2 separate regions of the Homo sapiens genome follow, and region 1 is linked to region 2. Evidence: fine-mapped expression QTL. A gene starts in region 2. The other region holds a variant in brackets. All regions are shown on one strand. Distances are between the middles of the regions. Region 1 holds the start of LOC107984210 (a long non-coding RNA gene). Region 2 holds the start of RPP38 (ribonuclease P/MRP subunit p38).

Region 1 (5,373 bases), 39 kb after region 2:
TGTACAACACAGTGCCCGGCTAATTGTAAATTTTTTTTGTAGAGACGGAGTCTCATTATGTTGCCCAAGCTGATCTCAAACTCCTGGGTTCAAGTGATCCTCCCACCTCAGCCTCCCAAAGTGCTGGGATTGTAGGTGTGAGCCACCACAGCTGGCCTATTTTGCCAATTAAATGAAAGGAGAAATCCTTTGTCATCCAGTGACAAAGATGACATTACAAAACAACAGTGATTCCGAGTCTCAAGGCCTACAATGCAGCCTTATCTTACACACTGTCATAAGCAATGTAGGTTTCATTCAACAGCCTTGGGAGGTGTGTTCTTTTTACTGCATTTCCACAAACTGGGAGAGGAAAGGGCTGCGGTGACCTCTGCCCCTCCCAGCAAAACCTAAAAATAATTTCAAGGCTGGTTACTTCTCCCCATCTAAACTGCTAGCAGCGTAGTTCAGGCCATCACAATTTCTAGTGATTTCCACCAAGAAGAGTTTTCCAAGTCCTTCTCTGCAGAGCTTCCCAACATGGTAGGACTAAAACCCAGGCTCTTCCCCATGGCTGCTGCCTGCCTCGGCCCCTCTCCACACCCTCCCTGCCCCCTGCTCCCAGTGCTCTGGCCATGATGACCGGGGCAGGCCTCAGCTCAGGGCCTTCCTGGTGCCTTCCTTAGGCTTGAGGCCCTCTGGTCCTCAAGGGACGGGCCCCTTGGAATTCCCGACAGAAGCTTACGCATCACACGTCACTTTCTCCCAGCATCTGTTGCTTAACTAAAGCCTTTCTCTACCTCAGTGTGGCCGCTCCTCCCCAGCCTGGCCACCTTTTGTCCTACTTTTCCACCACTGTTTCCAGGTGTGTGCCCTGGACTATGCCTGGCATTTAATAACAGACACTCAACAGACACCTGCTCCATGAGGGACCTTCAGGGCCTGGTCCTTCCATCACAGAACCTTATATACATTTTTAATACTCTAATGGGCTAGGTGCGGTGGCTCACACCTGTAACCCAGCACTTTGGGAGGCCAAGGCAGGTGGATCACTTGAGCCCAGGAGTTCGAGACCAGCCCAAGCAACATACTGAAACAGCGTCTTTACAAAAAAATACAAAAATTAGCCAGGTGTGGTGGTGTGCACTTGTGGTCCCAGATACATGGGAGGCTGACATGGGAGGATGGATCACTTGAGCCCAGGAGGTGGAGGCTGCAGTGAGCTATGATCATGCCACTGCACTCCAGCCTGGGTGATAGAGTGAGACCCTATCTCAAAAATAATAATAATACTAGTAATGTTTCAAGTGTGGGGAAATTGGATGTTTTTATTGGGATAGAAATTGGACTAAAATAATGGTTATCAAAAGCCAATGTCACTATCTAATATTTATATTTTCAGAAGAAAAATATTAGTCTTGCATAGATTTCCAATCTGTGGTATGAAATAAATGATACATGTGAAGTTAACACTCTTTGTGTTTTGTTGTTGTTGTTGTTGTTGTTGTTGTTGTTCATCCAGCTTTGTTTGTGGGGAAAAAAAGAGAAAAGCAGAAAAACTTACCTAGTTTTGGTACCGGTTGTGTGTCCCAAAACTGGTATCTGTGCTTTGCAGCCTCATCAATGTTCCTGGCTGGGCCCTGGCATGCGGATAGCAGCTCCATTGCTCTCTGGATATCCTGCAACTTCTGCATTGGAACACTGGGATTCTACGACAGCAAAGACAGACACAGAATATGAGAGAGCGGCTGCTGATGTTAAACTTGAGCAGACGCACGTGCATCTGCCTCAGAGACTACAATACCTAAACACTAACAATCCTCCTCCAAGCCCAGTCAAGGCCATGGGCTTGTGTGTTACACATGAAAATAGAAGCAAACCCTCTGTTAAAGGTAACAACAGTTGTCTAGTTTTATTGGGGCTCTGGCAGTTTGGGGAATCTAAATTGAAGCACGCTTTGCTTCAGTTTCCCATCCATCTACAAATGGTCCCCGGCATTACTCCTCTGGGGGAGACGTGCAGTGCATGCATTACTGTCATCCAACAGCCAGGCAGCCACGAGCCTTGGGTGGGGGGCACTGTCAGAGTAAATGCTCTGCAGGAGCAACGAGGGGATGAAGGAAAGAACTTCTAGAATGGAAACACAGCAGAGAAGGGAAGGGAAGGGGAGGGGAGGGAAAGAAGAGAGAGAGAGAAAACAAAGAAAGAGAAAGAGAGAGAGAAAGAAAGAGAGAGGATCGGCAGTGGTGTCTCACGCCTATAATCCCAGCACTTTGGGAGGCCGAGG[T/C]GGGCAGATCACGTGAGGTCAGGAGTTAAGAGACCAGCCTGGCCAACACGGTGAAACCTTGTCTTTACAACAATACAAAAATTAGCCAGGCATGATGGCAGGTAATCCCAGCTACTCGGGAGGCTGAGGAGGGAGAATCGCTTGAACCTGGGAGGTGGAGGTTGCAGTGAGCTGAGATCGCGCCATTGCACTCCAGCCTGGGTGACAAGAGCAAGACTCTGTCAGGAAAGGGAAAGGGAAAGGGAAAGGAAGGGAAGGGAAGGGAAAGGGAAGGGAAGGGAAGGGAAAGGAGGGAGAGAGAGAGAAGGAGAGAGAAAGAGAAAGGGAGAGAGACAGAGAGAAAGAAAAGAAAAGAAAAAAGGAGGGAGGGAGCGAGGGAGGAAGGAAGGAAGGAAGGTAGGGGGGAGAGACAGAGAGGGAGAGGGAGGAAGGAGGAAGGAGAGGGACAGGGGGAGGAGGGAGGGAGAGAGGGAGGAAAGGAGGAAGGAAGGACAGATGGAAGGAAGGAAGGAAGGAAGGGAAATCTGAACTCAGTGCTGAACTGGGATGAAAATGATCAAGAAAAGAAATCTCTAACCATGCCCCTTCCTCCCGGCCACACCCTGCCCTTCTCCTGACCCTCCTGATCCTCCTGATCCTCTAGAGACAAACTCTCCCACCAGAAGGACAAGCAATTTCCTCTGTACTTCAGATCCTGGGCAACCATAGCCTGTCGTTCCCAGCCCAAGTGTTGGAAACTGGACTCCTTTTTAGGTAAAACATTACGTTTGAATTCTAAGGTTCCTTTCTCAAAGCCAATATTCCCGCCAGCTCTTGGAGATTCCCCAGTTCTTTTTTTTTTTTTTTTAATTCCTCAAATAACGTAATAATACATGGAACATGAGACTACTTGAAATGAGAAGACAGCGCAGAGGACTGAATATGGAAATCAATGACTTTTTTCAATATGTAAAATTACTGAGACATTGTAGAACTTTGATACCATGCAAAGAATATTCTTCGCTGTAATTCAGAAAGTGGTTAGAAGTTTCAAGAGCCCTTCGGTTTTGCTGTATGTCAACACAGGGTGGACACCATTGAAAGGTACAATCGACCCTTAGAAGTTTATAAACAGCAACTTTGGACTTCTGTTCCACTTGGAATCTGAAATCTGTGGTGTGGAGCAATAATTTTAACTTGGGAAGCTTACTCATCGTACACAGCACAGAACAGGGTTTGTTTCATACAAACACTGTCAAGAACCCTAAGGAAACGAAGTTCTGAAGTCCAGCTGGAGGCAGGTGAAAGTCTTTTTGTCTCTGCTTGGAAGTCTCACAGCACAATCCAAGATGGCCACAGTTTTTGTAAGCTGTTTATCTTACATTTGTTTAACATCAAAATCATAAAGGTCCTATCTTAATGACACATACAAATTTAACAAAATACTTTTCCGGTTCTCATTATTATATCTTTGGATGACTTCTTTTCCTTGGGTGTCTTTTAAGTCCCCAACATTAAAAGGAGCAAATTTCTAGCAAAATGAAATTCATGTGTATCTGAACTCCAACAACACCATCTATTAGAAGACCTTACAATTTAAATAGGAATTGAGATCACAGCATATTTCAACTAATAATGCTTAACTGTGCATCAGTTTAGCTTAAAATGGCAAAGTAGAGCCCAGTCTTATAAAAATAGAACTACAATGACTATAATGAATTTGTCATGGTACTTTTTCTTTCTTGATTTAATTTTTTGTTCCTTGATTTCTTTCCTGGTTTCTGAGTTAAATCTTCTAACAGTAATATATCAAACTCAAACTATTTTGCAACAGACATGAATCAGCATCTTTGTTCCACATGACCCAATGACCAAAATGACCAACTCCATGAAGAAGACTTCAGAGTGATTTATTCCCTACCTAATTAGCTCATGGGTTGACCAGCACACCTCTACATGAAATGTCCCTTTGCGAAACATTGATATCCCAATGTTCACTATTTAAATGCTTTCTTTCTTCTTCTTCTTCTTTTTTTTTTTTTTTTTTCATTTTGAGGCAGAGTCTCACTCTGTCGCCCAGGCTGGAATGCAATGGCATGATCATGGCTCACTGTGACCTCCGCCTCCTGGGTTCAAGTGATTCTCCTGCCTCAGTTTCCTGAGTAGCTGGGATTACAGGCTTGTGCCACCACGCCTGGCTAATTTTTGTATTTTTAGTAGAGACAGGGTTTCACCATGTCGGCCAGCCTGGTCTTGAACTCCTGACATCAAGTGATCTGCCCGCCTTGGCCTCCCAAAATGTGGTGATTACAGGCATGAACAACCACATACGGCTCTATTTAAATGCTTTCTGAAAGTAGATTCAAATAAACACAATTTCCAAATCCACAGGGACAAAGCAGTAAGGGAAACTCAGCTATGATCATTTCTCATGCCTGTCCATTCACCTTCCATAGTAGCACTACCTGGGAAGAATGAGTGTGCATCAGGCAAGGTGAGATGAATATCTACCCGACATTAACTTCCCACGATTCCACTCCTATATAAGAGGCAGGTATATTCTCTTTTTCTTCCACACATGCTTTCTGTGGCATACTAACCAGCAACTATACTCTTTACCCATTGTTTTCCAAATTTAATAGTACCTTGGAAAAAATGTCCAAGTTTTATAACACTAAGAAGTTTATAAGAATCCAAATATCATTTTTATTTTGGTTCTTGTATGTAGACCAGAATATTCTGCAATGCAGTCCACTGTAATTTACAGTGCTATCTAGAGTTGGCATAAGCTTAAAGGGAAAGAGCCCCAGATTTTAAAAATGCAGCAGAAAAAAGCCCATCTTAAGACAATACTGACTTCCTCCAAATTAAGAAAAGAAATTCCCTACTGTGATGGTTACTACTGAGTGTCAACTTGATTGGATTGAAGGATACAAAGTATTGGTCCTGGGTGTGTCTGTGAGGGTGTTGCCAAAGGAGATTAACGTTTGAGTCAGTGGGCTGGGAAATGCAGACCCACCCTTAATCTGGGTGGGCACAATCTAATCAGCTGCCAGTGCAGCTAGGATACAAGCAGGCAGAAAAATGTGAAAAGAGAGACTGGCCTAGCCTCCCAGCCTCCATCTTTC
Region 2 (5,373 bases):
ACAGCCGGCCATCACTCAGAATCTTAAGTCATTGTCAAATAATGGAAAGCATACAAATCAAACAGTAGTCCAATTCTAGAATTAATATAAAAAGAAAGCTCTAATATACAAAGACCAAACAGATTTTACAGGATAAAACAACTGTCATTAAAAAGTAAAACTGGCAGGTGTGGTGGTGCACATCTGTAATCCCAGCACTCTGGGAGGCCAAGGTAGGAGCATTACTTGAGCCCAGGAGTTTGAGACCAGCCTGAGCAACATGGCAAGACCCCGTCTCTACAAAAAGTACAAAAATTAGCCAGGCATGGTGGCATGCTCCTGTAGTCCCAGCTACTCAGGAGGCTGAGGTGGGAGGATCACTTGAGCTTGGGAGGAGGTTGCAGTGAGCTGAGATGGTGCCACTGCACTTTAGCCTGGGCAACAGAGCAAGACCCTGTCTCCAAAAAAAAAAAACCGTTTCTTCAGAATAGGATATCAAATATGTAAAGTAATAATTTGAGAAACATGAAAAAGCGTTATGTGTAAAGAAAATCAGAAGACTTAATCTGTATTAGTTTAATGTAAAAGCATGCACATATGTGAAACAAAGTAGAAGGGAACACTAAAGAAAAAAATGGGTGTGATTGGGTCATGGGAGAATGTTTTTTACTTTTTGGTTGTAATGTTTGTGTGATACAAGAGGGACAGAAATTACTTTCGAAATGTACTTGTTAATTTTAGCAAAATCCTCGTGGAAATTATACTGCTAGTTTTAAAATAAAACACAAGCACTAAAATAATAAAGGTTATGTTTCATTTTTATTAACTTAGTTTTGCCACGGTTGAGACTGGATTTGCCATAGTTCAATTTATCAAGCACTTAACTATGTGTTCCGCACATAATAATCATCTTAGCATAGAGGAACATGTCTTCTAATCCGCACAAGAGATACTATTTTTATCACGTCATAGAGGAGGTTAATAAACTTGCCTAGGTCATAAGATCTTCAGTTGATGAAGTTAGGATTTCAACCCAGAGCCAAGTAATGTAATGGCTGATGTTTTCCACAGAGAAAATGTAAGCCGAGATGATGCTCAAACTATAAATCTGGAACCTTAGGGGGACAAAAACGTATGGATGTCTCCTTCCCATTACTTTAGCATTTTAATTAGATTCCTGTGTCTCTATTTGTCTTTGGAAATGCAAGCTGCTTGCAGTTCATCATAGCTAACTCACACAATTCATTTTATGAAACACAAACCTGTTCTCACAAACTCACTGTCATCTCTTTTTAATCTTTCTAATTGTGATAAAAATCATACTGCACTTTACCCTGTGTAACCTCCAATGATCTTTGACCAAAAGCCAAATCTTTTTTTTGTTGTGTTTACTTATGGACAGTTAGGTTCTACATAGGTACTTAAACATGAAAATTGAAATCATAGAGGCTGGGCACAGTAGCTCATGCCTGTAATCCCAGCACTTTGGAAGGCCGAGGTGGGCGGATCACCTGAGGTCAGGAGTTCGAGACCAGCCTGACTAACATGGTGAAACACCGTCTGTACTAAAAATACAAAAATTAGCTGGGCTGGTGGCCCGTGCCTGTAACCCCAGCTACTCCGGAGGCTGAGGCAGGAGAATCACCTGAACCTGTGAGGCGCTGGCTGGAGTGAGCCAGGTTCGCGCCATTGCACTCCAGCCTGGGCAACAAGGGCAAAACTCTGTCTCAACAACAATAATAATAATAAATAAAAGAAAGAAATCACAGAAACTATACCAGAAAATAGGATACAAAACCAACAGTGAGGAGATTGAGAAAAGGAGGCAGATACGTAAAGAGGAAAAGGAAGGGGGCCCAAGTAAGGCCGGAAAAAGCGGGGAGAAGGAGGAGGCTCATTAGGTCAGAAGCAACCTGCCGTCTTCTAAGTTCTGGCCAAGGGTAGATCAACAGATCCAGATTCCTGAGCTTTAAAATGTTATTCGGCCGCTTCATCACTTGTCCCCGACTTTGCAGCGACTCCGATGGTAGCCTGAGTCTCCATTGCTTGGAGCAGCCACAGTGGACACTGGACGGGATATTCTGTGCAGCTGTTGCTGAACTCAAGGCAACTCTTACTGCCTTTCTCTTTTCGGGCTCAAGATTCCCTGCATTATTGCCCATAGGCATGTGTTTTACCCCATACTCCTTCTCCCTTTTATCTTGATTTTCGCGGTGCTGGGGAGTCTGCAGGGATTCCATGGCGACGGGCTCACTGGGACAGGGGCTGGGGTTGTGCGTCCCTGAGGCAAGGCAAATACAGAAAAGCGAATAGAGACAGAGGGCTAAGATTCCAAAGCACTGAAAGGTAGAAACTGGGTTAGAAGAGAGAGGGGAGCACAAACGCCCGGAGAGAGCGAGCCCTCGGGATACCATTGGCTATAGGCTGGCCTCCGAACAACTGGACGGTCCAAGTCCTGAGCGTCTGGTTACCCGGGCAACCGCATGGTCTCGCGATACATACCTCGCGCCTGCGCACTGCCCCTGTAGCGGGGGTGGGGGGACCCGGTCCGGAGACTCCACCCCGGGGCCTAAACTCGAGTCTAAAAGATTGGGCCTCGTTGTGTCGTTTCCGGGTCGCGCGACGCTGTGGGCCGCTTTCCCCTCTCCGGAGTGACCTAACACAGGATAACGAAACCTGCACTGCTCCGAGCGCTTCCTCCCCGGCCCGTCGCGTCTGCGAGGCGAGGCCGGGAGGCGAGGGCTCTGCGCACGCGCGGCGCAGGCGCACTGGGCGCCGGTGCTGTTGCCTTCAGGTGACCACGGATTCGCCATCGTGAGTTCCAGGTGGGCGCGCGGGGCCCACGTAGGGCAGGAGGCCAGCCCCGGGGGGATCGGGCCCGGGACTCTGCGGAATCTGGAGGCCGAAGCCCGCGCGCACGCAGGGTCTCTGCTGCTTCCCCAACGCCTGTTGCGTGGCCGCAGGACCCGCCGCCCTCCCGGTTGGGCCGCCCAGTCCCGGGCCGGGCGCGTGCACCCAGAGCTTCCGCGTTTCTAGTCCGGCTCCTCTGCTGGATTGCAGCGCCGGCTGGGCACCAGGAGTACAAAGCGAAAACCCCCGCCGGCCCTTCTGTTCTCCACGGTCTCCAAGGAGACACGGACAACAGAACAACACTTCCGTGTGCTAAATAGTAAAGCACCAAGGTACTCGATCCAGGGGCGGCGTGCAGTGGGGAGGTGAGCTTTGGGTCGGCCGTCGCCCCTCGGCTACCGGCGGGATCCAGAAACCGGGAGTCACCACCAATACCGTTCTCAACTTTACTTCCAGCTGGTCACTACTGTGTCGGGAGATTCTACCTTCTTTTCCGACTAACATGTATTTTTCTCCAGTCCTTTCTGCGGCGTCTCTAGTGCAGGCCACCGTCATTTCTAACCTGGACGACTCCAGGAGCGTCTTTGCTGCTCGGGGACTCTTCCTTTGCCCAGATCCACAAAGATCTATAACGTCTTTCTAATCACGACACCTCTGCTTTAGATGTTAAAGTTGCTTCACACTGGAACGCTTGCAAAGGTCTTCATTATCTGGTCCTTACCCACCTTTCCTAGTTTCTCACCGCTTTCTCTAGCATCTCTGCCCCAGCCACATTGAACTTATTTGAACGTGTTTTTTTTTTTTTTTTTTTTTTTGAGACATAGCAGTCGCCCAGGCTGGAGTGCAGTGGCGCGATTCCGGCTCACTGCAACCTCCGCCTGCCGGGTTCAAGCGATTCTCCTGCCTCAGCCTCCCGAGTAGCTGGGACTACAGGCGCCTGCCACCACGCCCGGCTAATTTTCGTATTTTTAGTAGAGACGGGTCACCACGTTGGTCAGGCTAGTCTCGATCTACTGACCTCAAGTGATCCGCCCGCCTGGGCTTCCCAAAGTGCTGGGATTACAGGCGTGAGCCACCTCGCCAGCCAACTTATTTCTTTTAATACTGAGATACCTTTCTTTACTCCATACTTCCTTTGGTAGGCATTGTTTAGATGTAGGTTAAGAGGTCCGGCCCGGCGCGGTGGCTCACGCCTGTAGTCCCAGCACTTTGGGAGGCCGAGGCGGGCGGATCACAAAGTCAGGAGATCGAGACCATCCTGGCCAACATGGTGAAACCCCGTCTCTACTAAAAATACAAGAATTAGCCGGGCGTGATGGCCCGTGCCTGTAGTCCCAGCTACTCGGGAGTCTGAGGCAGGAGAATCGCTTGAACCCTGGAGGCGGAGGATGCAGTGAGCCGAGATTGTGCCACTGCACTTCAGCCTGGCGACAGAATGAGACTCCGTCTCAAAAAAAAAAAAAAAAAAAAAAGTTCCTCTGTGAGGACTGCCTTTTCCCACCCCCCTCAACTAAGCTAGGCCTCTGCTGGATGTTCCCTAAGCATACTGTTCCCTGACCTTCATGTGCATCAGGCTTTATTGTATAATTACTTGCTAATATTTTTTCCTCGTGGACTCTAAGCTCATGAGGTCTGTGAGAAAAAATACTTAATCTTTATGGCCTGGCACATCGTGGATAATCGATAAATATTTGTTGAAGAAAGGAAGGGGCCTGCGGCTGAGGGTGGGAGTGGTATTCCAGGCAGAGGGACTAATGTGTATAAAGACTTGCAGGTGGGAAAATGCTGGCCTCATTAAATAGTATGTTGTTCGGTGTTGAGGACTTGTGCTTGGTGGGGCCTAAGGAGAAAGAGGGCCTAAGTGGGAGATTGAGCTGGAGTGTGGAGGGCCTTTTATGTCACATTAGAGTTTAGGCGGGGCATGGTAGCTCATGCCCTCAATCCCAGTACTTTTGGGGAGGCCGAGGCTACGGGATTGCCTGAGCCTAGGAGTTGAAGACCAGCCCAGGCAACAAAGCAAGACCTTGTCTCTATAGAATTTCTTTTTTTTTTTTTTTTAAGACGGAGTCTTACTCCATTGCCCAGGCTGGAGCACAGTGGTGCAATTACGGCTCATTGCAGCCTCCGCCTTCTGGGTTCAAGCAATTCCCCTACCTCAGCCACCCACCTAAGTAGCTGGGATTACAGGTGTGCACCAGCACTCCTGGCTAATTTTTGTATTTTTAGTAGAGACTGGGTTTCACCATATTTGCCAGGCTGGTCTCGAACTCCTGACCTCAAGTGATCTGTCCAGCTTGTCCTCCCAAAGTGCTGGGATTACAGGTGTGAGCCACCGTGCCCAGCCTATACAGAAAATTTAAAAATTAAAAAAATTTTCTGGGCTTGGTGGTATGCGCCTATAATCCCAGCTATTCAGCATGAGGCTGAGGTGGGAGGATTGCTTGAACCCAGAAGTTCAAGGCTGCAGTGAGCCATGATCGAACGACTGCACTACTGCCAGGTGACAGGGCAAGACTGTCTAGTAAAAAGAGTTTGCCCTTGATC

The links. PIP is the estimated chance that this variant, and not a neighbour inherited with it, causes the effect.
Region 1: its variant is the best candidate, but not a certain one, in a credible set for the expression of RPP38 in skeletal muscle (GTEx, PIP 0.65).

Annotation. Positions count from the first base shown.
Region 1 is chr10:15,133,731-15,139,103 of GRCh38, forward strand. NMT2 (N-myristoyltransferase 2) reads right to left here. Exons shown (of 12, transcript NM_004808.3): 3 at 1,544-1,688. It overlaps LOC107984210 (a long non-coding RNA gene), which reads left to right and starts at 1,688. Exons shown (of 2, transcript XR_007062067.1): 1 at 1,688-5,373. The variant T/C (reference allele first, on the strand shown) is at 2,267.
Region 2 is chr10:15,094,606-15,099,978 of GRCh38, forward strand. RPP38 (ribonuclease P/MRP subunit p38) reads left to right here and starts at 2,750. Exons shown (of 3, transcript NM_183005.5): 1 at 2,750-3,161. It overlaps RPP38-DT (RPP38 divergent transcript), which reads right to left and starts at 2,714. Exons shown (of 2, transcript NR_160789.1): 1 at 2,482-2,714; 2 at 780-2,260. RefSeq lists enhancers at 2,295-2,866, 3,168-3,257, 3,318-3,457 and a silencer at 2,668-3,027.